Linked DNA regions of Homo sapiens: regions 1 and 3 are each linked to region 2. The links come from fine-mapping of genetic effects on gene expression. A gene starts in region 2. Each other region holds a variant in brackets. All regions are shown on one strand. Distances are between the middles of the regions.

What was found.
Region 1: its variant is fine-mapped to the expression of YJEFN3 in whole blood (INTERVAL, PIP above 0.99).
Region 3: its variant is fine-mapped to the expression of YJEFN3 in tibial nerve (GTEx, PIP above 0.99). The same link has a PIP of 0.9 or more in cerebellar hemisphere, cerebellum, coronary artery, liver and thyroid.

What each region holds. Positions count from the first base shown.
Region 1 is chr19:19,407,741-19,415,911 of GRCh38, forward strand. All of the region lies in intron 1 of GATAD2A (GATA zinc finger domain containing 2A), which reads left to right. Among named protein-coding and RNA genes, the nearest start is that of GATAD2A, 6.2 kb to the left of the region's middle. RefSeq lists an enhancer at 3,055-3,164 and a silencer at 3,275-3,364. The variant T/A (reference allele first, on the strand shown) is at 4,421.
Region 2 is chr19:19,523,877-19,532,021 of GRCh38, forward strand. It overlaps YJEFN3 (YjeF N-terminal domain containing 3), which reads left to right and starts at 5,035. Exons shown (of 7, transcript NM_198537.4): 1 at 5,035-5,115; 2 at 5,488-5,637. The coding sequence starts at 5,057. It overlaps NDUFA13 (NADH:ubiquinone oxidoreductase subunit A13), which reads left to right. Exons shown (of 5, transcript NM_015965.7): 2 at 2,306-2,384; 3 at 3,405-3,476; 4 at 3,825-3,894; 5 at 4,131-4,322. The coding sequence ends at 4,250. RefSeq lists enhancers at 977-1,952, 4,294-4,794, 5,770-6,701 and a silencer at 2,204-2,498.
Region 3 is chr19:19,255,234-19,263,382 of GRCh38, forward strand. HAPLN4 (hyaluronan and proteoglycan link protein 4) reads right to left here and starts at 7,571. Exons shown (of 5, transcript NM_023002.3): 1 at 7,497-7,571; 2 at 6,213-6,330; 3 at 5,580-5,942; 4 at 3,290-3,622; 5 at 1-2,975. The coding sequence starts at 7,499. The coding sequence ends at 2,584. The variant A/G (reference allele first, on the strand shown) is at 3,393.

The DNA.
Region 1 (8,171 bases), 120 kb before region 2:
ACTACAGAGTTAGTTGCTACTTTGCATTCGCTTCTTCAGCTTTGGACTCAGAAAAGTTGGCCCTTTTCTAGAGGAAACAGTTTATAGGATGTGGGAAATTTGCAAGGGATTTTCTGTATCCTCTGTCTTCACTTATTCCCTCCCCTCCTTCATCTTTCAGTTCTTATTTGTCTCATAAAATTCCGAAGCTGGTTTTTATGAAGATTGCTTCTCATCTTGGAAGGGCTATAGAGAATGGAAAGATTTGGATGCAGTGTGTTTTGTTTGTTTGTTTGTTTTTTTGAGACGGAGTCTCGCTCTGTCATCCAGTCTGGAGTGGCACGATCTTGGTTCACTGCAACTTCCGCCTCTCAGGTTCAAGCAATTCTCCTGCCTCAGCCTCCCGAGTAGTTGGGACTACCATGCCCGGCTAAGTTTTGTATTTTTAGTAGAGACGGGGTTTCACCATGCTGGCCAGGCTGGTCTCGAACTCCTGACCTCGTGATCTGCCCACCTCAGCCTCCCAAAGTGCTGGGATTACAGGCGTGAGCCACCACGCCTGGCGGATGCATTGTTATTTCCACTCAGATGACATCATTTTTTAAAATGTCAAGTCATCTCTATTAATGCAGTATCATTTGGCAAATCCTATAATCTTATATTTTGATAGTGAGGGAAAAATATAATGCTACTTTCGGTAGGAAAAAATCCTGGAAGGATTTGTACCAGAATGTCAATAAAGGTCTCTACATTAGGATTAGCAATAGTTTTTCTTTTTTAGAAAACTTTTTAGTGTCTCTGTATTTTGCGTGTGTGTGTATGTTTTTAATGAGGAAACATGTTTTAAATACTCTAATTTTCAACTCTTCAGTAGCTCCTCTGACTTGTTTTGCATCATTTATTTTCTGAATTTCTGGCATTGCAGGTAGTGATTTCTAGATTGATATATTCAACAAATATCAGAGTGCATACTGTGCCTTCGACACTGCGAGGAATCCCTCCTCAGTAGAGTTTATAGTGAGATTAGTGGGCCAGGAGTCGTAATTAATCTTATAAACATGGGGAAACTTACAGGGATCAAGGAGAGAAGGACACTGTGACCTGGTGAGCCCGAAAGGACCTTTCTCCTACTGGGGTCAGAGAACAAGAAGGGGGACCCTCTTGAAGGGGATTAAGGCAAGGGCTGGTGCAGTGAGGCTCACAGCCGGGACCTCTTTGGGTCTTAGCAGATGACTAAAGGATGCCTCTGAAGAATGTGGCTGGTAAAGTTGTAAAGCCATTCTTGAAATGTTGGCTTTTTTTTTTTTTTTTTTTGGTGTTTGTTCTCTTGGAAGAAAATTAAGAATGACCAGCAGAGTTTTGGATATATGAATTCCCAACAGAGACAAAAATGTAATGGCCCTTACCACTGAATTTGTTTAAGGACCATCATTAGCATGTACTGACACCTCAAAGCCTGGGCAGCTCAGATGCTTTTCTGGAGAACTACCTGCTTGGACTCGGGGTGTTTCTGTGCCATCAAATGGAACAGGCAGGGCTATTTTCTCTAGACCTTTCCCCCCCATAATTGAGTTAATTTATGCTGGTTGTAGAAAACTAGGAAGATTATGAAATAGGTGAGTGGGTGAAGTCTTCTCGAGCAGCTGTCCTGGGGTAATAGAGCATCCCTGGGATTTCCTCCTAACCCTTGTCTGGTTGGGAAGTGTGGCAGAACCAGAAGAACAAGTTGGCAATGTCATAGTTTGAGGCATACAGAACTATGCTGCCTGCTAAGTGTGGTCGTTTGTTAGAATGGATGCTTTTGAGTTATCTGAGCTGCTTCGGGAGGTAGCTTTCCACAGTCTGGCCTCAGACTGTGGGTCTTCCAGGTTAACAGGACTTAAGTGCTAACTGTGCAAAGGTATGTCTTTGAATGGAATTAGGAAGGCAGTGTATTAAAAATAAGAAGGTTGAGATAAAAAAAGACGGATCTTGAAGTGGTTGGTGGTTGCAGCGAGGTGGAAATAGTGAGACCCGTACTGTCAGAAACAAAGGTACCACTGGGGACAGATCCCGCTCGAGCATGGGTTCCCCAGCATCCCCGCAAACAGGATCTGGGACTTTTTTGTCAAGAGAGTGTCAGACCGTTGGCTTCTTGCCCCTCCCCCACCTTGTGCTTTCCAGACTATATTTGTGACCTCTTTTTGTCTGATGGAAATGTAGGTTAGTCTTTTAGAAGACAAAGGAATTTACCCTAATAGAATACCTTTAGGTAGCCTCAGGAAGTGATTGGGAATCCACGAAACCCTCTAGGTGTGGGAGAGAGGGGCCCTCAGTGAGAATGTCACACGTTTGCACCAGTTTGCACAGTTGCCAGGGCCCCTTGCAGCTCCTCTGTACGCTGTACCCCCTTTGTCTCTCCTCAGCCTCCAGAGGCACCTTCACAGGTGAGTTTGTCAGGGAACTTGCCTTTCTGTCTGATTCCTGATTTTAGGGTTCCTTATATGGAAGGGCTGAAGACCTGCAATTTCCGAGGATGCTGGAGGCTAGCTTCTGAGATAGGATTTGCTGGCAGGAGATGAGCAGTACTCTAAAGGAGGGCTCCCAGCAAGTCAAAGTGGGAGTTCTTGGGGCAGGGGGTGGGGGATGGGGGTGGTGGGTGGAGTGGTCAAGGCTTCAGGGCTTTCCTGCTGCTTGGCCTCAAAGATAGTAGCTATGCCTGTGGGGAGGGGTGTGGCCATGTGGTACAGGATTGGGGAGAAATTCCACTTGTTTGAAGGATTTGTTGAAGAATCCCTCAGCTATTCCTCCTGCAGTTCCGTCTCAGGACCTGGCGCTGCGTGGCCTGCCTTGCCGGTTAGATATTCTGGTTTGAACCTTGAAACGTAGCCTAAATAAGGTGGTGCCTTCGAGCACACACTTTAAAAATACTGCTGCATTATGGTGGCACAGCAGCTCCTCCTGTGCCAAGGAGGCCACTTTGAGTCTAGGGGGCACCTGCTTTTTGCCAAGTGTGGCCGTGTGCCTATTGCTGAGCAGCCTGTCTCTAGTGGCATCCAGGACAGCCCTGGCTTTGCCTCAAGACAGCCTGGTGTGAGCTCTGCCCAGCCACTTCCTAGCGAAAGACCTTGTTGAACATCACCCCTGTTTCCCATTTCTGTCAAGGGGGTACTTACTATCTCCCGTGGAAGGCTGTGTTGGGAGTGAGATAACAAGTGCAAATGATCGACCCCAGTGCCTGTGTGTTCCACATGTTGCAGTTCAGTGAGTACTGTTATGACTGTAACAGATGAGCCAGAGTTCACAAGCATTAACAACTGCCCCACCTCTTCTGTGGGGGATGACACCACCCTCATGGCAAACTGTCACTGTCTGCATGCCCCCTTTGGAGCCACACTGGGGCGCATGCCTCAGCTTTGTGCCCCAGCCTATTCCCCTCTCTCCATGTTCCTGTGAAGAAGGCAAAGTTCCCCACAGGAGGTGATACTTGCCATAGTCACCTTGCTCATTATTCGGCGGCTGGGACCCAACCCAGCCTTTCTGATTTCAGACGTTGTCTATTTTTTCCACTGCCTTGGGGCCTTCTTGACGATACTGAATGCCTGGGTTGGTTGTGCCCCAAGCCAGGAGGCAGCCTCTTTCCTGGCCCAGGGCTTGTGGAAGCCAGCATCCGGACTTCCATCTGTGAGATGGGAAGCTGTTTGCCGGGCAGATCTGTCATGGGAGCCTTCCTTAGAGAACTGAGAGGGGTCCCTGTCACTGAGTGGACTCTGGGTGGAGGCTGGAAGTAGGTGGTTTGATGGTACTTGCAGTGGTGTCTGGGAGCGCCAGGGTGAATCTCATCCTCCTGGACTTGCCTTTCAGACTGACAGCTCTCCAGCCAGCTTGGAGTTGGACAGATCTGGCTTTGTCACTGACGATATGCAGTTTACCACTCTTCAGCGTTGGGTGGGTCACCTGATCACCTGGCCTCAGCTTTCTCTTATGTTGGCGGAGACAGCATCTTTGACCTAACAGGATGCTGTGAGGACAAGTGGAAAGTGTCTACAGGCAGTCAGGGGTATTCCAGCCTTTGCCTCTCCATTTACCTCAGAGCCAAAAAGCTTTCTCCCCCCAGATGTCAACTACACAGTGATTCTTGAACACCTCATATCTCAGTTATCACATATAATGTAACACTCAGATTGAGGAGCTTGGTTTTCTTTATAACAGAATCCTACTGCAAGCTAACAATTTGGAGGCCTAAGAGTCAGGTCAAGGCCGGGCGCGGCAGCTCACGTCTGTAATCCTAGCACTTTGGGAGCCTAAGGCAGGCTGATTGTTTGAGCCCAGTAGTTCGAGACCCGCCTGGGCAATGTAGCAATCCCCCATCTCTCTCTCTCTCTCTCTCTTTTTTTTTTGGTGGGCTGTCTCAGGCCGCTTTTTTTTCTCTCTCTTTTTTTTTAATTTTTAATTTTTTTTT[T/A]AATTTTTTTGTTGAGACGGAGTCTTGCTCTGTCAGCCAGGCTGGAGTGCAGTGACGCGATCTCAGCTCACTGCAAGCTCCGCCTCCGGGGTTCATGCCATTCTCCTGCCTCAGCCTCCCAAGTAGCTGGGACTACAGGTGCCCGCCACCACACCCGGCTAATTTTTTGTATATTTAGTAGAGACGGGGTTTCACCATGTTGGCCAGGATGGTCTTGATTTCTTGACCTTGTGATCCACCTGCCTCGGCCTCCCAAAGTGCTGGCATTACAGGCGTGAGCCACCGTGCCCGGCCGATTCCCCATCTCTTAAAAAAAAAAAAATTAGCCAGGTGTGGTGGCATGCATCTGTAGGCCCTGCTACTTGCGAGGCTGAGATGGGAGGATCGGTTGAGCCTGGGAGGTTGAAGCTGCAGTGAGAGGAGATCATGCCATTGCACTCCAGCCTGGGCGACAGAGTGAGACTCTGTCTGCGGGGGGGATAAAAAAGGTCTGATCAGATTATCTGGAAGGGATGTGAAAAACCCTGTGGCCCTAACTCTACAAATAATACCAACTTAACATTTTCTCCAGTCACAGCCATTCTGTGCAATTAACCTTTGAGTCAGTGGCTGTGAATCTATACTCAACACATTCTTACCTTAGAGACGGCTGCTTGCCCTGACCTCGGAGGTGGGCAGGTTTTAGGCCAGTAAAGTAGGCCTCCAATTTACGATGGATTGACTTAAAATTTTTCAACTTTATGTTGGGTTTATCAGAGGTAACCCCATTGTAAGTCGAGGAGCTCCCTTTGATTTGTAACAGTTTCTCCTGAACACAGATCCCTTTCGTACCATGGTAAAGTTGAGAAATTTTAAGTCGAATAATTGTAAAATGGGACCAGTGGCTGTGTTAAATGCATTTGATATTTTCTACTCCCAGTGGGGCTGCATTCTAATAAACCCATCATAAGTTGAGGAGCATCTGTCTTCTTGTTGCTGGGGTTTCAAGTTGGTGGAATTTGGTGGTAGTGACAGCAGATTTTTAGTTCTCTTGTGTGTTTAGCACAGGCTCACTCTGCCAGCAAGTTTTGAAAACTGCTGCTACCACCTTCGTTCACATCCGCAGAGGAACATTTTTCCTTGTTGCTCAAGTGTGGCTGGAGAAAGTAGGAGAGTGGTGAACTGAATTCTTGGTTTGAAGGCATCGATTGAATTGGTTCCGTCACTCTCGAGACCTGTGCTGTTCTCAGGACTTGCGTATCATTGACGGAACACCTGAACTTCATTTTCTGTCTTCTCATGTAGTGTCCCTGGGTTTGCCGAGGGTTCATGCCCACCCCGTTCAGTGGTGGTTCTTTCAGAGGATTCTGTAGTCAGCTCCTTTCCTAGGGTTCTCTTATAGCCACTCTAACCCAGGGAGAGTTTGCTGGTGTGTTTGGTGTTTTTGTTTTTGTTTTTTTGAGATGGAGTCTCACTCTGTCGCTCAGGCTGGAGTGCAGTGGCGCAATCTCGGCTCACTGCTTGAACCTCCGCCTCCTGGGTTCAAGCGATTCTCCTGCCTCAGCCTCCCGAGTAGTTAGGATTACAGACACCCATAACTTTGCCTGGCTAATTTTTGTATTTTTAGTAGAGATGGGGTTTCGTCATGTTGGTCAGGCTGGTCTCGAACTCCTGACCTCAGATGATCCACCCACCTTGGCCTCCCAAAGTACTGGGATTACAGGTGTAAACCACCGTGCCTGGCTGTGTTTGATGTTTTTATTAATACGTTCGTTTGATGAACTGACCTCGGTAGTTTGTATGTGGGCCATCTGTCTCCTGCCTCCCTTCCCCAAACTTTTGGTCAAGTTTTTAGTGTTGAGTCTTTTTGTTGTTGTCTCTTTTCTGACTGTACAAGCAACATTTCCTGATGCCGAAGTCTGGGGAGGGGGTGGGAGCCTCAGATGTTGGTGGTAGGAGTTGCCTGGTCTGCTTTTGAAGTTTTCTTGGGCAAGTATATTAACATATACTGAGTATAGGTTCAAATGTAATTGCAGTCTTATTGTTAGTTTGTATCTGTCAGGTTATAGGATTAGAAATATAACTATTTTTGGGAGTTGGGTAGCAGACAAACTGAGGATTCTACCTGGGACTTTCTTCTGTGTACTGTGCTCTGCTGAACCCAACACTGGGCACAAACAGGAAACTGAGGCTCAAGCGGAGGAGGAGTGGCCTGCCCAAGGTTGACTTGCAGAAGGAATGAGGATATATCCCTGTTTTCTCCTGGAATTAGACTTTCAGATCTCTGTTGTTCTTACTGATGTCTTTGTGGCTTGGTGAATTTTGTTTTAGCTTCCTTCTTACTTTATTTATGTAGGTCCATTGGTCAGTTTCCTTCCTCAGGGCCTTGTCTTTTTTTTTTTTTTTTTTTTTTTTTGAAACAGAGTCTTGCTCCATTGTCCAGTCTGGAGGGCAGTGGTGCAATCTCGGCTCACTGCAACCTCTGCATCACGGTTCAAGCGATTCTTGTGCCTCATCCTCCCAAGTAGCTGGGATTACAGGCGCACGCCACCACGCCCAGCTCTTTTTTTTTTTTTGTAGAGATGGGGTTTTACCATGTTGGCCAAGCTGGTCTTGAACTCCTGGCCTCAAGTGATTTGCCCACCTTGGCCTCCCAAAGTGCTAGGATTACAGGTGTGAGCCACCACACCCTGCCCCCTTTTTTTTTTTTTTTTTTTTTTTGAGTCCTGAGGTCATTTTGGGTGTCTGTAGGGTGAGGATGGGGCAGGACATGGGGAGGGAGAACTTAGGGCTGCCTCTGGTTTCTCAGGGCAGCCTTAAAAAAAAACTATAGTGGCCAAGTGTAGTGGCTCAGGTAACCTTAGCTCTTTGGGAGGCTGAGGTGGGAGGATTGCTTGAGGCTAGGAGTTTGAGATTGGCCTGGACAACATAGTGAGACCTGCCCCCGCCCCCCTCCCCCCAAAAAAACCCCAAAAAACTGTAGTAGTGTTGAGTAGGTGATGTCTTTACTTTTTTTTTTTTTATGTTTTTTAGACGGAGTTTTGCTCTTGTTGCCCAGGCTAGAGTGCAATGGCATGATCTCAGCTCACTGCAACCTCCGCCTCCTGGGTTCAAACAATTCACCTGCCTCAGCTTCCCGAGTAGCTGGGATTACAGGCATGTGTCACCATACCCAGCTAATTTTGTATTTTTAGTAGAGACAGGGTTTCTTCTCCATGTTGGTCAGGCTGGTCTTGAACTCGCGACTTCAGGTGATCTGCCCGCTTTGGCCTCCCAAAGCCCTGGGATTACAGACGTGAGCCACCACGCCCAGCCTTTTTTTTTTTTGGAGATGGAGTCTCACTCTGTTGCCCAGGCTGGAATGCAGTGGCACAATCTTGGCTCACTGTAACCTCCGCTTCCCAGATTCAAGCGATTCTCCTGCCCCAGCCTCCCAAGTAGCTGCGATTACAGGCGTGCGCCACCATGCCGGGCTAATATTTTTTTTTTTTTTTTTTTTGAGACAGTCTCACTTTGTCACCAGGCTGGAGGGCAGTGGCATGTTCTTGGCTCACTGCAACTTCTGCTTCCTCGGTTCAAGCAATTCTCCTGCCTCAGCCTCCCAAGTAGCTGGGACTACAGGCACATGCCACCACGCCTAGCTAATTTTTGTATTTTTGGTAGAGACAGGGTATCACCATGTTGGCCAGGATGGTCTTGATCCCTTGACCTCGTGATCCACCCACCTTGGCCTCCCCCAAAGTTGGAATTGCAGGCATGAGCCACCACGCCC
Region 2 (8,145 bases):
CTGAGATCGCACCACTGCACTTTAGCCTGGGCTACAGAGCGAGACTTTGTCTCAAAAAATAAAATAAAATACGTATTTTGTAAATGTTTCACTGTGTTGCACAGGCTAGTTGCAAACTCCTAGTCAAGTGATCCTCTCACCTCAGCCTCCCAAAATGCTGGGATTACAAGCGTGAGCCGAAAAAATTTGATCCCACCACTGCACTCCAGCCTGGACAACAGAGAGAGGCCCGGTCTCCAAAACCAAAAACAAAAAGAATGGTCCACACACCCTTTTGTGCGTGCCCCTCACCATGTTCCCCACCAGACTAGCAGTTCCTAAGGCACAGACTCTGAGGCCTGGGGCCTTGGCCCCCCTGTGGTTGGCGAGGAGGAAGAGCCCTGTGCAGGCTGCATGCAAATACAAGAGGCCCTGCATTGTTTCTGTCATCTCATACATCTCTGTTCTATGCCAGTGCCACGCTGTCTTGTACACACAGCTGTGGGATAAGTTTTGGAATTTATTTCTTCTTTGGAATTTATCTTACAGATGGGCCTGCGTATGAGTGCGCAGGTGTGAGGGTGCAGGTTCTCCCCAAGGGCCCATTTTCTGCACCAGAAGGCTGAGGGCAGCCCAGGTCTGTCCCCTGGGTTCTCTGTAGCCGTGGAAAATAATGAGATATGGCCGGGCACGGTGGCTCACGCCTGTAATGCCAGCACTTGCAGGTGGATCATGAGGTCAGGAGGTCGTAACCAGCCTGGCCAATATGGTGAAACCCTGTCTCTACTAAAAATACAAAAATTAGCCTGGCGTGGTGGTGGGCGCCTGTAGTCCCAACTACTCCGGAGGCTGAGGTGGAAGAATCGCTTGAACCCAGGAGGCAGAGGTTGCAGTGAGCCAAGATCTTGCCACTGCACCCCAGCCAGGGCAACAGAGTGAGATTCCGTCTCAAAAATAAATTAATTAAAAAAAAGAAAAGAACGAGATATGACCAGCCTGGGCAATATAGCAAGACCCCATCTGTACAAAAATTAGTTAACTGGACATGGCACACACCTGGGGTCCCAGTTACTCGGGAGGCTAAAGTGGAAGGATCACTTGAACCCAGGAGTTGGAGGCTGCATTGAGCCATGATTGCGCCCCTGCACTCCAGCCTGGGTAGCAGAGTGAGACCTTGTCTCAAAACCAAAAACCAAAAAAGGAAAAAAAAATGAACAAGGCAGCTGATGAAACCTCCCATGTGCTAGACAGGAGGCTGAGAGCTGGGAGCTGGCCCTGAGCACCCTGGGCCTCTCCAGAGATGTGCCTCTGAGCCCGGACCCAGCACACCCTCATTACCTGTAGTATGGAAATGTCTTAGCCCTGACTTGGGCTTCTAACAGGTTAAATAACCAGGTACAAATTTGAGCCAGTTTCTCATTTATCTCCGGGTCTAGCAGAGGTGCCCCCGTGAGCTCCATGCTGGAGCAGAGCTGAAGGCAGAAGAGCATGACAGGTGCAGAGCAGGGCCCGGCAGGCACAGAGTAGCCCCAGCAGGCATAGAGCAGGGCCAGTGCCCTGGAGGCCTGGAGATGGCCTTGCCTTCCACCTGCTGGTCATTTCCTGGGTGTTGACTGGAGCCTGGCCTACCTGAGCTTTTCATTCATCCCACCAAGTGCAAAGCCTGTCCAGAGAAGAGACTGGGGCTGGAAGGATCTGGAGGGTGCAGGGTGAGCCTGGGAGCCAGATCCCAGACAGCCCAGGCCTCTCTGAAGATCCCAGTGGGCCCCCAGCCTGTCAGTCAGGATTAGAGCAAGGCCCCACTGGTGCTCAGTAAATATTCATGATGGCCTAGGTCCTTCCTGGGGTGCAGGGCAGGGGGCTTCACCCTGCAGAGCCAAGAGGTAGCACGGCCACCCCTAGAGTCCGGGGGGTGGCTGGGCAGCCCCCACAGGGCACTGCCTGTCCCTGGCAGCTGTGTGCAGCCCCCGCAGGGCAGCACGCGGAACTGTGGCCCAGGTGGCCGGGAGCCACCATGGACACTGTCAGAACTGCCCTTCCACTTCAGGGCCAGCCTGCCGCCCAGGGTCCAAACAGCCTTCTAGAACACGATGGACCTGGGGCCCCCCTAGCAACCACCATCTAGACCCTCAGGCCTCCTGAGGTTGCTGCCTGGCTTGTACCTTTCAGAAAACCCCTGGCATGGGGGCAGAGGTGTCACAGTCCAAGCAGCCTCACTCCTGAGAAGCCGCCAGTGTCCCCTGATTGCAGAGTGGGCAGCGCCTGGAGCTGTGGAGGAGGGTGTCTGGGGGCGGGCTGGCCCGCTGAGCAGCGCCTCTCTTCACAGGCTACAGCATGCTGGCCATAGGGATTGGAACCCTGATCTACGGGCACTGGAGCATAATGAAGTGGAACCGTGAGCGCAGGTAGGGCCCCTGGTGGGCGTTGTCTGAAAGTGCCCCCCCGGCGAGTTGTCGGGGTCCTGTAGCATTCCGCTGTTGTCTGTGCTGGCGAGGGGTGAACGGGCCCCTTGGACTTGGCTGTGCAATCCCAGGCCCCAGAAAGTGCAGATCCAGACCCAGCACTTCCACTTCTAGGCTCTGTCCTCGAGATGTCTCCATGTCTGCAATCCCAGCACTTTGGGAGGCCAAGGTGGGAGCATTGCTTGAGCCCAGGAGTTCAAGACCAGCCTGGGCAACAGAGGGAAACCCTGTCCTCGCCACCCCAAAAAATGTGTCTAGTGAGGAGGGTTGGGACCCGTGGATCCAGATTAGGACAGGATATGAGTGGGGGGCCTGCCTCGGGCCCTCTAAGCAGGATTTTGTCAGAGGTGACCAGGCTCAAACCAGACCACACCAGGCAGTGGACACACAGGGCCAGATGAACTAGGGCCAGGCGCCCCCCTCTCCCTGTGTCACAGGCTGGGCACTCCTTCCCCACCCCTCCCCCAACCCCAACGCAGGCCAGGCAGGACTGGGAGATGGGGGTCATTGCAGGGAACTTGGAAACTGCCAGAAAGCAGGGAGAAGAAAGGAAAGATTGTGGCCCCGCCTGCCCCAGCCTCACACACTGATTATTTTGAGATGAAGGGGACGTGGTTTTGTGAGGCCCAGAGCCCCGTGATGAAGTCACCCCCTCTTCGTCGCGATCATCAGGCAGAGTTATTTTTAGGATAAAAAAAGTTTTTAATTGAAAAGAAAGTAGAAAGCCAACAGTCTTGTGGGCAGTCACCCGTGCAGCTGCCTGCACCCGCCCTCCTCTCAGGCTCCTGGTGGGCTCTGCCCACAGCCCTTGCCCTTCCCGCGACCCTCGCCCTGCCCCCTGCCTGCCTCCCCGCCCCCCTCCGCCTCTTCCCCCAGCAGCACCCTGGCCCCTGAGGTCTGTGCTGCCTGTGCTCCCCCGACCTAGCCTGGTCTGACCTGAGTGTGGGTTTCGGGCTTTCACAGGCGCCTACAAATCGAGGACTTCGAGGCTCGCATCGCGCTGTTGCCACTGTTACAGGCAGAAACCGACCGGAGGTAGCACCGCAGGGGCCAAGGTTGGGAGGTCACTGGCCGGAAGGCCCCAGGCTGCAGGGCCTGACCTGCATCCCCGAAGGTGGCCAGAATGCACGTGGGGGCCATCGCCCTGTGCCGTCAGCTGCATCCTCAGGCGTGGAGACTTAGTGGAGACCCAAGGGGGCGAACCGGAAGGCTTCCTGGAGGAGGAGGCAGCACTGGGGTTGGGGCAAGAGAAAAGCTAGGAGTTGGCTGGGGGAAAAGGAGACAGGGTCGGAGGGAGGCTTGAAGGGGTGCTACTAGGGGCCCTAGGCAGGGGCCCCTCAGGGCACTGAGGCCCCACCCCCACCATCGGCCCCATCCCCACAGGACCTTGCAGATGCTTCGGGAGAACCTGGAGGAGGAGGCCATCATCATGAAGGACGTGCCCGACTGGAAGGTGGGTCCCGGCTGGGAGGGCAGAGGTGCCAGCCACGGCAGAGACAGGGCCTGGGGTTGGGGAGCTCCCACAGCTTTCTATAGAAACCCCAGGACCAAGGGGGTGGTGGGTGCCAGGTCCCACAAGGGAAGGCTGTAGCGCCTGCCACGCACAGGGGCCACTGATCCTGGGGGATGGGTCCTAGCAGGCTGTATATGGGTGGCTGTGCCTCTACCCATACCCCACTGTCCCCACAGGTGGGGGAGTCTGTGTTCCACACAACCCGCTGGGTGCCCCCCTTGATCGGGGAGCTGTACGGGCTGCGCACCACAGAGGAGGCTCTCCATGCCAGCCACGGCTTCATGTGGTACACGTAGGCCCTGTGCCCTCCGGCCACCTGGATCCCTGCCCCTCCCCACTGGGACGGAATAAATGCTCTGCAGACCTGGCCTGCCTGTTTTCCTGGGGACTGGGGGAAAGAAGGGGGAGAGGGCCCAGCTAGGCACCACCGGATCACATGTAGCATGGGGACGCAGCAGATATGCACAGGGTGACCTCAAAACACACCTAGGGGCTGCCCCTGGATCCACTGGCGGCCTCCTCTCTGCCTCCGATATACCTGGACTCTCCTGCCTCCCTTTTGAAACCATGCCTGTCAGCAGCCCACTTACCTCTCCAGGCTGGGGGCCCCTGGGTCAGCTTTGGGTCAGACCTTCTCCACGGAGGTCTGGAGAGTGGGGGGAGCCTTGACCTCCCGGATACAAGTGATCCTCCCGCCTCAGCCTCCCGTGTCACTGCGATTACAGGATTACAGGCGTGAGCCACCATACCTTGTGCAGCCCTGCCAATTGTAGGCATGGCGAGGGTATTTGTCTGCGGAGGGGCTCCTCGCTCCCTGAGAGGGAAGCTCAGAGACACGGGGATATCTGCAGGGAAAGTAAGTCGGGGGAAGCAACCAAGATTGGCCAGGTGCCTCTGCTGTGGGCTCCTGGCACGAAAGGGTGAAGTCCGTCTGAGTCCACCGACCAATGGTGACGCGCAGCGCCTTCGCGGCGCTTCCTGATTGGCGGGCATGCAGGGTGGGCGGGAGGGAGGAGAAGAGGGGGCGTCCCCTCCCTCCACGGATGCGCTTAAAAGGCGGTGGCGGTGGCGGCAGCGCCCGGCGCCCGGGCTCACCTCGGCCATGAGCAGCGCAGCCGGCCCAGACCCGTCGGAGGCGCCCGAAGAGCGGCATTTCCTCAGGTCAGCTGGGGAGAGGGAAGCTGGAGACGGGCATGGTTCCCATGGGGCCAGGAGCAGCCCGTAGGACCGGAGGCAGGGTCATAGCTGGGACAGAATGGGGTCCGGGGACTGGAGACGGGCACAGCCGGGATGGAGGTTCAACGGCAGAGGCATGACCACGGTGGGGAACCGGAGGCAGGGATATGGCCAAGACGGGCCTGGGAATCCCGGGAATCCGAGACCCTCCTGGCATCTTGCTGGAGACACTAAGCTGCGTTGCTGGGGAAACTGCCTCCGGGGCAGCCCGCCCCTCATGAATGATTCATCAGCAGCGCTGGTCGCTCCCCCACCGAACCCCAACCGTGGCCCACCCCCACTCTCCATCTCTCCCAGGGCCTTGGAGCTGCAGCCCCCACTTGCCGACATGGGAAGAGCGGAGCTTAGCTCAAATGCTACCACCTCCCTTGTCCAGAGGAGGAAACAGGCCTGGGGAAGGCAGTCATGGCTAGAGCAGATTTGGAACGCAGGGCCTGTTTGCCAGAGGTTGGTGAGTTTGGGATCTAGAACTGGCGCCGTGGCTGTGACTCTCACCTCATCCTCCTCAGCCTTTGTGACATGGGACCCCAGGCAAGGCTGTTGACCTCACTGTGAACCAGATGCGTCCAACAGCTCCTGCCCACTGCCCACCTAGCAGGGCACGTGTCCCCTCAGCCGATGTCCAGACTCAGTCTAGGGAAGAGTGTTTTAGGAGCTGTGACTTCACCTTGGGGTGAAGGGGTGAGGTGAGGGGGGCCTCAAATGCTAAGTGAGGGGAGTGAGGGGGCTCTCAGGGGTGGGTAGGAGCTAGAACGTAGTGGGGAACTGGCTGACGAGGCTGGAGACACAGAAGGGCCTCTTAGGCATGGTGAGGAGTTTGGAGTTTGAATGTTCCCAGAGCCCTCGGGAGCCATCAGCAGGTTTGGGACCCGGTGATGCAATCTGGTGTTCGAGTTTTCAAAGCCCCCCCAGGCTCATGTTGAGTTTTGGGGGCAGGAGGCTGCTGTGTGCGGCCAGGTGATCCCCCGTGGTGGTCTGGTGGGCAGAGGTGTGAGGTGGAGAGAAGCAGGTAGGACTGAGAGCAGGGTGAGTGTGGCATGGCCACCCTGGCCTGAGGTTTCACCTCCCAGAAAGCCCCCTCCTGGAAGCATTTGGCGAGTGTCAGGCCCAGTTCCCTTTGGACCCAGGCCACTTCAGGCCTCCTGGGTCTGACAGGGAAATCCTTGGGGCCTTGAAGCTTCTCTCATCTAGGGGCCGAGATTCGGGATAGCAAAAGGCACCACTGAACACCCCCAGAATCCCACAACAGCAGAAGGGACCTGCCCTGCCTGCCACCCTCCTTCACCAGGCTCCAATTCCCACGCAGCCTCCCACCCCCACCCCACAGCTGCTGCTGTGCCCCACCCCCAGGTTCCTAACCTGGACGACCCTCTGCCCACAGAGCCCCCATTATTCTAATGACCAGTTAGACAGGAAGAGAATGTTCCAAGTGGCTGCTAGAGGCCAAAGCTTTGGGACAGAAGAAGAGGAATGCATCGCCCTCCCGCCCTCCACTTCCTCCCTGCACCCTCCTGCGGGGGCAGCAGTCAGAGCTGTCACAAGATGGAGGTGGAGGAATGAGCCATGTTCCCAGCCTGCCAGATTCCTCACCCCGAATGCAAACGCACCTCCTATGTGCTTTCCTGGGAGCTGCGCTGGCCTGCCCCGGGGGGACTCTGTCTGACTTCACCATGAGCTCCTTTTCCTCACCCCGTCCTTCAACTTCATCCTATGTCAGCTGCAGACAGGCTGAGGTTTGAATTTGGCTCTGTTTACTGGGGTGTCCCAGGGCATGTGACTTTCCTGCCCTGAGTCTCTGTCTCCGTCTTTATGTGTGGACCCCCGAAGTGTCCTCTTCACCATGTTCCTCAGTCTGGGATTTGAGGCTCTGCCTGCCCTGTCCGCTTGATCACTCTGCTTCAGCCTCCCTTCTGCCCCTTGAACATACCAGGCTCCTCCCCACCCCAGGGCCTTGGCTTTTGCTATTCTTGCCCCTGCATTACCTGCCACGATGTGCCAGGCCTCCTCCTCCAGGAAGCCCTCGCTGACTCCCATCCCATAGCAGTCCTCCTTCTCCTGCACTCTGCCTACCTGGCCTTATCATGCTGCAAAATTGGCCAGAGGGCAGACATCTCCCACTCAGAGAGTTGAAGGAAAGAGTCTCAGGATTCATCCCCTCAAAACATCCACCATCTGTAGGTCTGGCTCTATGTCTTTGTTCATGTCCTGTGGCTCTGGAGACACCAAGGGGGAAAGACCCAGTTTCCCAACTTGCTTCCTGCATGATCCTGGGCAAGCCACTCGGCTTCTCTGAATCATTAGTTGTTTTTCCAACTTTTCTAGGCCTGGCTCTTTTTATTTATGTTTGTGTTTTTTATTATTATCTTAGAGACAAGGTCTTGTTCTGTCGCCCAGGCTAGAGTGCAGTGGCGTGATCATAGCTCACTGCAGCCTCCACCTCCCAGATTGAAGTGATCCTCCTGCCTCAGCCTCCTGGGTCACCGGGATTACAGGTGTCCACCACCACGCCCAGCCTAGTCTGACCAATTGTGTAGGTCACCCGAATATTCAGTTTTGCTCCGAGAGGTGGAGACGGACCCCAGTCATTCAGTGAAGTGGATGGCAGAGCTTCACCTCCAGCTAAGTAGCCACATTTTCTGGCAACAAATAACCTTTTTTTTTTTTTTTTTTTTTTTTTTTTTTGGAGACGGAGCCTCACTCTGTCACCCGGGCTGGAGTGCAGTGGCACGATCTCGGCTCACTGCAACCTCTGCCACCCGGGTTCAAGCGATTCTCCAGGTTCAAGCCTTAGCCTCCTGAGTAGCTCGTACTGCAGGCACCCACCACCATGCCTGGCTAATTTTTTGTATTTTTAGTAGAAACAGGGTTTCACCATGTTGGGCAGGCTGGTCTGGAACTCCTGACCTCAAGTGATCCACCCGCCTCATCCTCCTGAAGTGCTGGGATTACGGATGT
Region 3 (8,149 bases), 270 kb before region 2:
CACTTCCAAAGAGAATAAAAATCAAGCCCGGCCAGGCGCAGTGGCTCACACCTGTAACCCCAACACTTTGGGAGGCCGAGGTGGGTAGATCACCTGAGGTCAGGAGTTCAAGACCAGCCTGGCCAACATGGTGAAACCCTGTCTCTACTAAAAATACAAAAATTAGCCGGGTGTGGTGGCAGGCACCTGTAATCCCAGCTACTCGGGAGGCTGAGGCAGGAGAATCACTTGAACCCGGGAGGCAGAGGTTGCAGTGAGCCAAGATTGCACGACTGCACTCCAGCCTGGGCGACAGGGCAGGACTCCATCTCAAAAAAACAAAACAAAAAAAACCCCAAGCCCCCCAAGCTTGTAACATCTTATCTACCAAAGTGCATTTATACAGGAATTACCCACTGGCTGCCTCATTTTCTCATTCATCAAAAGAAACAAGGATTTATTGAGCCCCTACTGTATGCTTGGCACTCACGGGGACCACAGAACAGCCCTGGTACAGTGGGAGAACACAGGTTCAGAAGGAGTTTGTCACTTGGTCACACAGTGAGCAAGAAGAGGCAGAATTCAAACCCAAACCGACCTGGTCCCAAAACTCAGAGATAGGTTTCCTAGAGATGACGTGACAGTAAAGAGGGCCCCAGGGGGACCCCAGTACTCCTGCAGGCAAGACTTCGGGACTGGGGTCTCCCACGGCCGGGATGGCCTTGTCCATGGATCATGTCCCCCCAGCTGCCTGTCAACGCCGAGGACTTCGGCTGGGTCCTGACCTCTTAGCACAGATCGCCGCTTAGAGCCTGGTGGGTGTTGAATTTTAAAGAACATTCCATCCCTCCTGGATCTCTAAGGAGGGAAATGTGGGTGGGGGTCAGGGAAGGAGAGAGGAACTGGGTGAGAATGGAGATGGGGTCTCAGAGGACAAAAGAGGAGCTCAGTGCTTGCATATCTCAACAGACCAGGGCACGCCATAGGCTCGGTTTCCTCATTTGTAGGACGACGACAAACATGCCCGGGTGTTGCAAGATTGTCTCGTGCACAGCTGCTATCCGGCATAGAGTTAACGTGCAAACGGAGGGTGGCTTAGCAGCTCCAGAAGTCCAGCCCTGTCTGGGGAAGGGGCAGCCATCAGGCCCCTGATGGGGTGCAGTAGGGTAGCCCTAGTAGGAGGCACCCAGGACTTCTGGCCCACAATGAGAAGTTCCTGAGAACTGGAAGTCTGGTTGTCATGAGGACAACGTTGACAGTCTCTATGGCAACAGCTTGGTGAACAGGGCCCCGTTGTCCACAAGGAAAAGCCTAGGGGGACAGGTGTTCTGTTACCTCGGACTCCAGAGTTTGGTCACCATGGCAACAGTGGTGGGGTCCAAACCGCCTGGGGGTGGAGCATGGAGGGTGGTCTGGAACTGGAGTGGGCCTGGGGACAGGGACAGTTTGTTTCCATGGTGAGAGCCGGAGAACTGGATGTTGGGTCACCCTGGCGACAGCTTCGGGGAGGGTGATCTCCATGGCGGTGAGTCAGGGTAGGGACAGCCAGAAGTTGAGGTGGAGGTCTCTGGGGTGGGGGCCAATGAGATGAGAAATGTGTGGTATCCATGGTTACAGCTGGAGGAGGGAGGCACTGTCTTCATGGGTGTGCCTGATGAGGGAAGGGGTGTGTGACTCTAGGTGACAGGTAGCAGCAGGACTGGTTGCCTTGGTGACAGTGGGACCCAAGGCAACTGCTCTGCATAACTAGTGACATGGATCTTACCGGTCCCCAGGCCTGGGAAGATGGTCTGTTTGGTGACAGTTGGGAAAGGGACGTCAGAGGACAGGGTGGGTTTGCTCTCCCTTCAAAGAAATATCTGAGGGGTGGGACGTGGCCCCCAGTAAGTGAGCCAGCTGGCTGTGTGTCAGTCTGAGGTGGCAGATGGGGGTGCTCGCCCATGAAACTAGAGGGGTGTGCCCTGTTACCCAGAAACTGCAGGGGACTCTCAGGGAGAGGGGGAGAATGGGAGTCTCCAGGACTCAGGTCACCATAAGGGAAAATAAGCGCCTCGGCCCACAACCTCCATGTGACCACGGGGAGTGACCCTGAAGTTCCTGTAGTCTCTCCAGGTGAGGAGGAGGGGGAGGAGGAGGCGCCCAGTGTCCCACGTGACCGCAAGGGACTAGTGTTCAGTCTCCAGTGAGATGCAGAAGGTGTACGGCCGGTCTCTAGTCAATCCCGGGGGTCCAGCCACCAGGCGACCACGGGGGCAGTTGGTCTGTTTCCAAGTGGTCTCAGGAGGCGTGGCCAGTCTTCAGGAGCCTGCGGGTTCTGCTGGCCTCCTGAGGTCCTCAGGGGGCGTGACCCTCATGGAGAAAGTTGGGGAGTTGGGGGAATCCTCTATCCAGAAGAGGTGAGGGCTGGCCAGGCTCCAGGGAACTCCAAAGTACTGTTCTGCCAGGACTAGCCAGTCTTCAGGGACCCCAGGGGCACAGTTAGTTTGTAAGGGACCACAGGGAATGTGGCCAGTGTCCAGGGCTTCAAGGGCGTGGCCAGGCTCCAGGGGACCACAGGGCTCTAGACCAGTGGTCAAGCGCCCTGGCTGTCCGCCTACTCCCAGCCTAGACGTGCAGAGGGGTCCAGGCAGCAGGATCGCGCGCGCCCCCTGCCCAGCCGCCGCCGCCCGCCCAGCCCCAGCCCCAGCCGCCAGGTGCCGGGTCCGGTGCTCCTGGAGCGCGGTAGCAGTAGACGCCGAAGAGCCGTCGGGTGGCGTCCGGGAAGCCGAGGCTGCGCACACCAGGCCTGCGGCCTCCGCAGCGCGCTCGCGGGTTCACGATGGGGTAGCGCGCACTGCCATCGGCCAGCCAACCCGCGGTGCAGCGGTCTAGCAGCTGCAGCTTCCACGCGGCGAACAGCTGCCCCACCTTGGCCACGGCCGCGCCACGCGCAGCACACGCGCGCGCAGCTCCGGAGAAGGGTACAGGTCGCAGCGGCTTCAGGAAGAACACGCGCCCTGCGGGGGTGAGGTGGGGGGTGGGTTATTAGTGCGGCTCCTGGGACCCTGCTTCGGTGGGATTCAGGACTGCCCCCCGCATGCAGCCTAGGACTCTGGCCTCGGCCCCGGGATCCAGGAACAGTTCCTCCTTTGCAGCCTGGGACCCCAGCCTAGGCCCAACCAGCGTTGGTACCAGGCGGTGTGTGCTGCGCCTAGGCACTCTTGGGAGAGGGGTCTCCTGTTTCTGATCGCTAAGAGCTGGGTGGGGAAGAAGGCCCCGGGGTTGGGGTAGTGTTGCAGCAGAGGCCAGTCTTGGGGTGAGGCCTACGCACCCGGCAGGTTGGACGTGAAGCAGAAGGCGTCGTAGCGTTCCTCGGCGTTATGGCGATACCCGTAGTTGCGCAGGCCCCCGTTGGCATCACCGCCGCCCCCTGC[A/G]CTCCCGGTCCCCCCCAGGCCGCCGCAGGGCTCCCGGGGCCGGTTCACGGGGTATTGCACTGAGCCGTCGCGCAACCAGCCCGCGTTGCACCAGTCCAGGCCGTCGCGCCAGGCCGCGTGCAGCTGTTCTGCAGATGCCAGGATGCCGTCCTGCTCGGCGCACGCGCGCTGCGCCTCCGCGAAGGTCAGCTTGTATCGGCCTCCACGGGGGTGGTAGGGAAAGACCACGCCTGGCGGGGGGCGCACGGGATCAGCAGGTACACCCCAGCCCACCCTCATGCACCTGACGTCTGGGGTGCTATGTGACTCTTCAACCGGGACCTTTCAGTCCATTCCTCCTCACTCTGGCCTCAGACCTGACCACGATCCTCCCCAGCTCACACCCCATATAGCTGTCTCCCTTCACTTTAAGCTTGGGATTCACTTGACCCTCCCCCTTAACATACTATTTGTGTCCATCCCCTTCCACCTCTGGAGGACTTTGCTCATGCTCTTTCCACCTTATTCTACCTGTTGAACTCCTATTCATCCTTCAAAATCCAACTCCCAAACCCTCTTCCATTGAGTCCTGTGTGCCTCTGACATTCCGCCAGTACTGGGTCCCTCCCTCTGGTCCAGCCCTGAGCCCACGGAGCCTGCGTTCAGTGCTGACTCTCCTAGACTAGGACCCCCTGGAAGATTGGCCCTAGGTGAAGACCCCTTTGATTCCCCCAGCATTGTCCAAGGGAGTACCCACTGGGTTCCCTTCTACCTTCAGTTCTGATGACTTTGGAACTTGTCCCTCATTGGACTCACAGTCCGTTCAGCTCAAGTATTTTGTGTGTCTGTGTTTGAGGGACGCGGGTTGGGGGTGAGTGGGGTACCCTGGAAAGAGGCAGACAGGGTCCAGGGAGAAGGCCTGGAGCTGACAGACTGGGGATTGAATCCTGTCTCTGCCACCAACTAGCACTGTCCTGGGCAAGGCTCTAACCTCTCTGAGCCTGTTGTCCATCTGCTGGTAATAGCTGTCTCCCTTGGGGTTTTTAGGAAATTAAATTAGAGACTCCTGAGAACTCTTCAACTAAGCACCTGCCACAGAAAATGTCCAGTAAAGGAGAGCTGCTGCTATTATTGTTGTTATTTGTTATTGTTAGGGAGGTCAGCAAGCAAGGGCCCTGAAATCTCACCTAGAATCTTCTAAAGAGAACTGGAAAAGGCCAATCAAATGGGAGGGAATTCTTCAAATAGAAACCCCACCTCCCAGCTCCAGGGTGAGCCAATCAGAGCATCCCATCTTCCAGCTACAGTGATTGGCTCACAGTTGGGCACATGACTCAAGCTGAGCCAGTGAGGGACAACTCTGGGACTCTAGCTGCTGCTCCTAGGAAATCAGTTGCTAAGCAGGGAAGTGAAAGCCTAGGCACTGTGGTCTTGGTTCCAGAAAGAGAAGCCTGTCGGAAGAAAGCCTACCTGGGAAGCAGAGCAGAAGGATGGTTCCTGACACGGTGTGAGTGCCTGGATCTCACTGTGCCTGAATCCTATCCCAGGACTTCTCAGTGTCCTCATTGTGGACATTTTGGACTGGATCACTTTTATTTTATTTTATTTATGTATTTATTTATTTATTTTTGAGATGGAGTCTCGCTCTGTCGCCCAGGCTGGAGTGCAGTGGCACGATCTCCACTCACCGCAACCTCCACCTCCCGGGTTCAAGAGATTTTCCTGCCTCAGCCTCCCAAGTAGCTAGAATTACAGGAATGCACCACCATGCCTGGCTAATTTTTGTATTTTTACTAGAGATGGGGTTTTGGCATGTTGGCCAGGCTGGTCTTGAACTCCTGACCTCAGGTGATCCGCCTGCCTCAACCTCCCAAAGTGCTGGGATTACAGTCGTGAGCCACCATGCCCGGCCTGGATCACTCCTTGTGGGGGACTATCCTGTGCCTGGTAGGATGTATAGCTGCATCCCTGGCCTCTACCCACTAGGGGCTAGTAGCAACTGCCTTCTCCAGATGTGACAACGTAAAATATCTCCAGACATCGCCAATGTCCCTGGGGAGGAAAATCACCCAGAACCAGATATGGGGGCTCTACCCCAACCAACCTTCTAAATGCCTGCAGGCCAACTTGATTTGGTTTATGTCCCTTGCCATCCCCGCCCCCCTCCTTCCTCAGAAGCAAGGTTTATCCTCCCCACCGGCTGATCACCTTCCAGGTCCAGCTTGACCATGCCAGCGTCATCTTCCAGCTCATTGGTGACTTCGCACTCATAGCGCCCGTAGTCTTGCAGCGTGACGTTGCGGAGGACCAGGGAGGCATCCCCAGGCCCGTCGCCCTGCAGCTCAGCCCGCCCACGGTAGCTGCCGAATGCCCGGTGCTGGGGGCCTAGTGCCACGAAGACGTCGGTGAAGGCCAGCGGGTCCACCACCTTTGTCCACTTGAGCCGGACGCCGTCGTGACCGTGGGCGGCTGCCTCATAGTGGTAGCGGCAGGGCAAGACGATGGTGCCACCACGGTGGCTTACCACCTGCCCAGGCGCTGTCTGTACCACTACCGAGCCCGACTCACCCTCTGAGGACAACCAAGCAGGGTTCAGAGGAGGGGCCTAGGGGCAGAAGGGGGCCTCTGGGGAAGGTGTCTCTGGGGAGGGGAACGTGGGAAGACTCGGGTGGGGGTCGGGGAATCAGAAGGGTCCAGGGGCTCAGGGAGAGGGCGAGGGGCTCAGATGGGGAGTGGCTGGGGGAACCGCGGACGTCAGGAACGCCCTACCCGCTACCCCTCTCCGCACTTGGCCACTTCTGCTTTTCGCGGAGAAGACCACTTTTAGCGGCCCTGACTCACCCAGCACGTGCACGACCTTCTTCCGGCCACGCTGCGCCCCCGCAGGGGCTGTGAGCAGCAGGACGCCCCAGGCCGCGGCCCAGAGCGCGCCGGGACCGAGGGCCGCCCGAGCGCACACCTGGGGGGCGGGCACGGGGCGCTCAGTCCAGCCTCCCAGCCTTGGCTTTTCGGAGGCCTGGCTCCCTCCCGGGCCTGCCTTCCCCACAGCGAGGACCTCTCTCACGCCCATGTCCCCACCCTTTCCGGGGTCCTGGAGAACTCCCCCTCCTCCTCTTGGGACCTCACATCCTAGCTTCTGCAAGAACCCACGCCCCTAGACTCCCCCCCGCCCTCAGTCCTGCCCCAGATCCCGCCTCATTCCCCCCCACCCCAAAACCCGAGGCTCGCTGCCCCGCCCCCTTCTGGCCCTGGCCCGGGCCGGGGATAGGGGGGTGGGGAAGAGCTGGAGGAGCGGCGGCAGCAAGGTTATCCGTGCGCCAGGAGACTGCAGCAAACCGGGCCGGGGCGGGCAGGGAGGGGGGAGAGCTGGAGAGAAAGAGGGAGAGACGCGGGGAGAGAACAGGGACAGAGAGAAAGGCAGGGAGAGGCAGAGAAGAGAGTGCGCGACACAGAAAAAGGGGAAGGGAAGAGAGAGAGGCAGAGATGGAGAGGGAGAGACAGATGGAAAAGAAGAGACAGATGTAGAGGGAGAGACAGAGATGGAGAGGGAGAGACAGAGAGGCAGAGGGAGAGACAGAGGGGCAGAGGAAGATACAGAGATGGAGAGGGAAAGACAGAGATGGAAAGGGAGAGACAGAGAGGAAGAGACAGAGAAGCAGAGGGAGAGAGAGAGAGGCAGAGGAAGAGACAGAGATGGAGAGGGAGAGACACAGATGGAGAGGGAGAGACAGAGAGGCAGAGGGAGACAGAGAGGCAGAGGGAGAGACAGAGAGGCAGAGGGAGCGACAGAGAGGGAGAGGGAGAGACAGAAAGGGAGAGGGAGAGACAGGAGAGTGCCAGAGGCAGAGAGACTCAGAGAAGAGGAGGGAGAGATAGGGACAGGGAAAGACAGAAACGGAGAGGAGAGGAAAAAGGCAGAGAGGATGACAGAGATGGAGAGAGGCAGGGAGAAATGGAGAGGGAGAGAACCTAGAGTGCCAAAAAGAGAGATCAAAGAGGGTGAGAGACAGAGAAAAGGAAGAGACAGAAGAAACTCAGAGGGATATAGATTCAGAGGCAGAGAGATATAGAATCCAAGATTGGGGAGACGGGGCACACACCACCCGCGCCCGCAGCCCCACTTACCATCTTGCCCGCGCGGCCCCCGCCGAGCGGCCCCTACGCACCCGGACTGCGCTCCCCGCACACCCGGTTAAGACTGGGCAGGTCCCTGCAGGCGGCGCAATCCCGGCGTCTGCCTGCAAGGGGAGGAGGAAGGCGGGCGAGGCGGGGTGTATTAAAGGGGCCGCGGGGGCCCACGCTCCCCTGGAGCAGTGGCTGGAGCGCGGGCGGAGAAAGAAGCGCTCTGGACTTGGAGTGCAGAGCTAGTTCCCTCACCCTGCTAGCTGAACTTAGGCCAGGGAAGAACCTCTCTGAGCCTCAGTTTAACCATCTTTGAAATGGAGGAGGGGGCTGAGTCTTCTATCTTGGTTACTGTGCTTTGGCAGGGGACCTGGGGGATCTGGTGAAAGAGATCATTTGGCCTGCAGGCCACCTGTCCATTGGGTAGTCATAGTGGAGTCCTGGTCTCCAGCACCCCAAAGGCGCTCCCTGTGCAGGGTGGGGGCCTCACGATAGTCACACTCTGCTGTGGACTGGAGCCACAGGCCCCAATTCAAGTCTGCCCCTCACTGGCTGTGAGACCTTGGAGGAGACAGTTGGCCTCTCTGAGCCTGCTGCTGACTCTTTGGTGAAGATCCAGTAGCTAGACATACAGTAGATCTCCGGTAGGGGTTGGG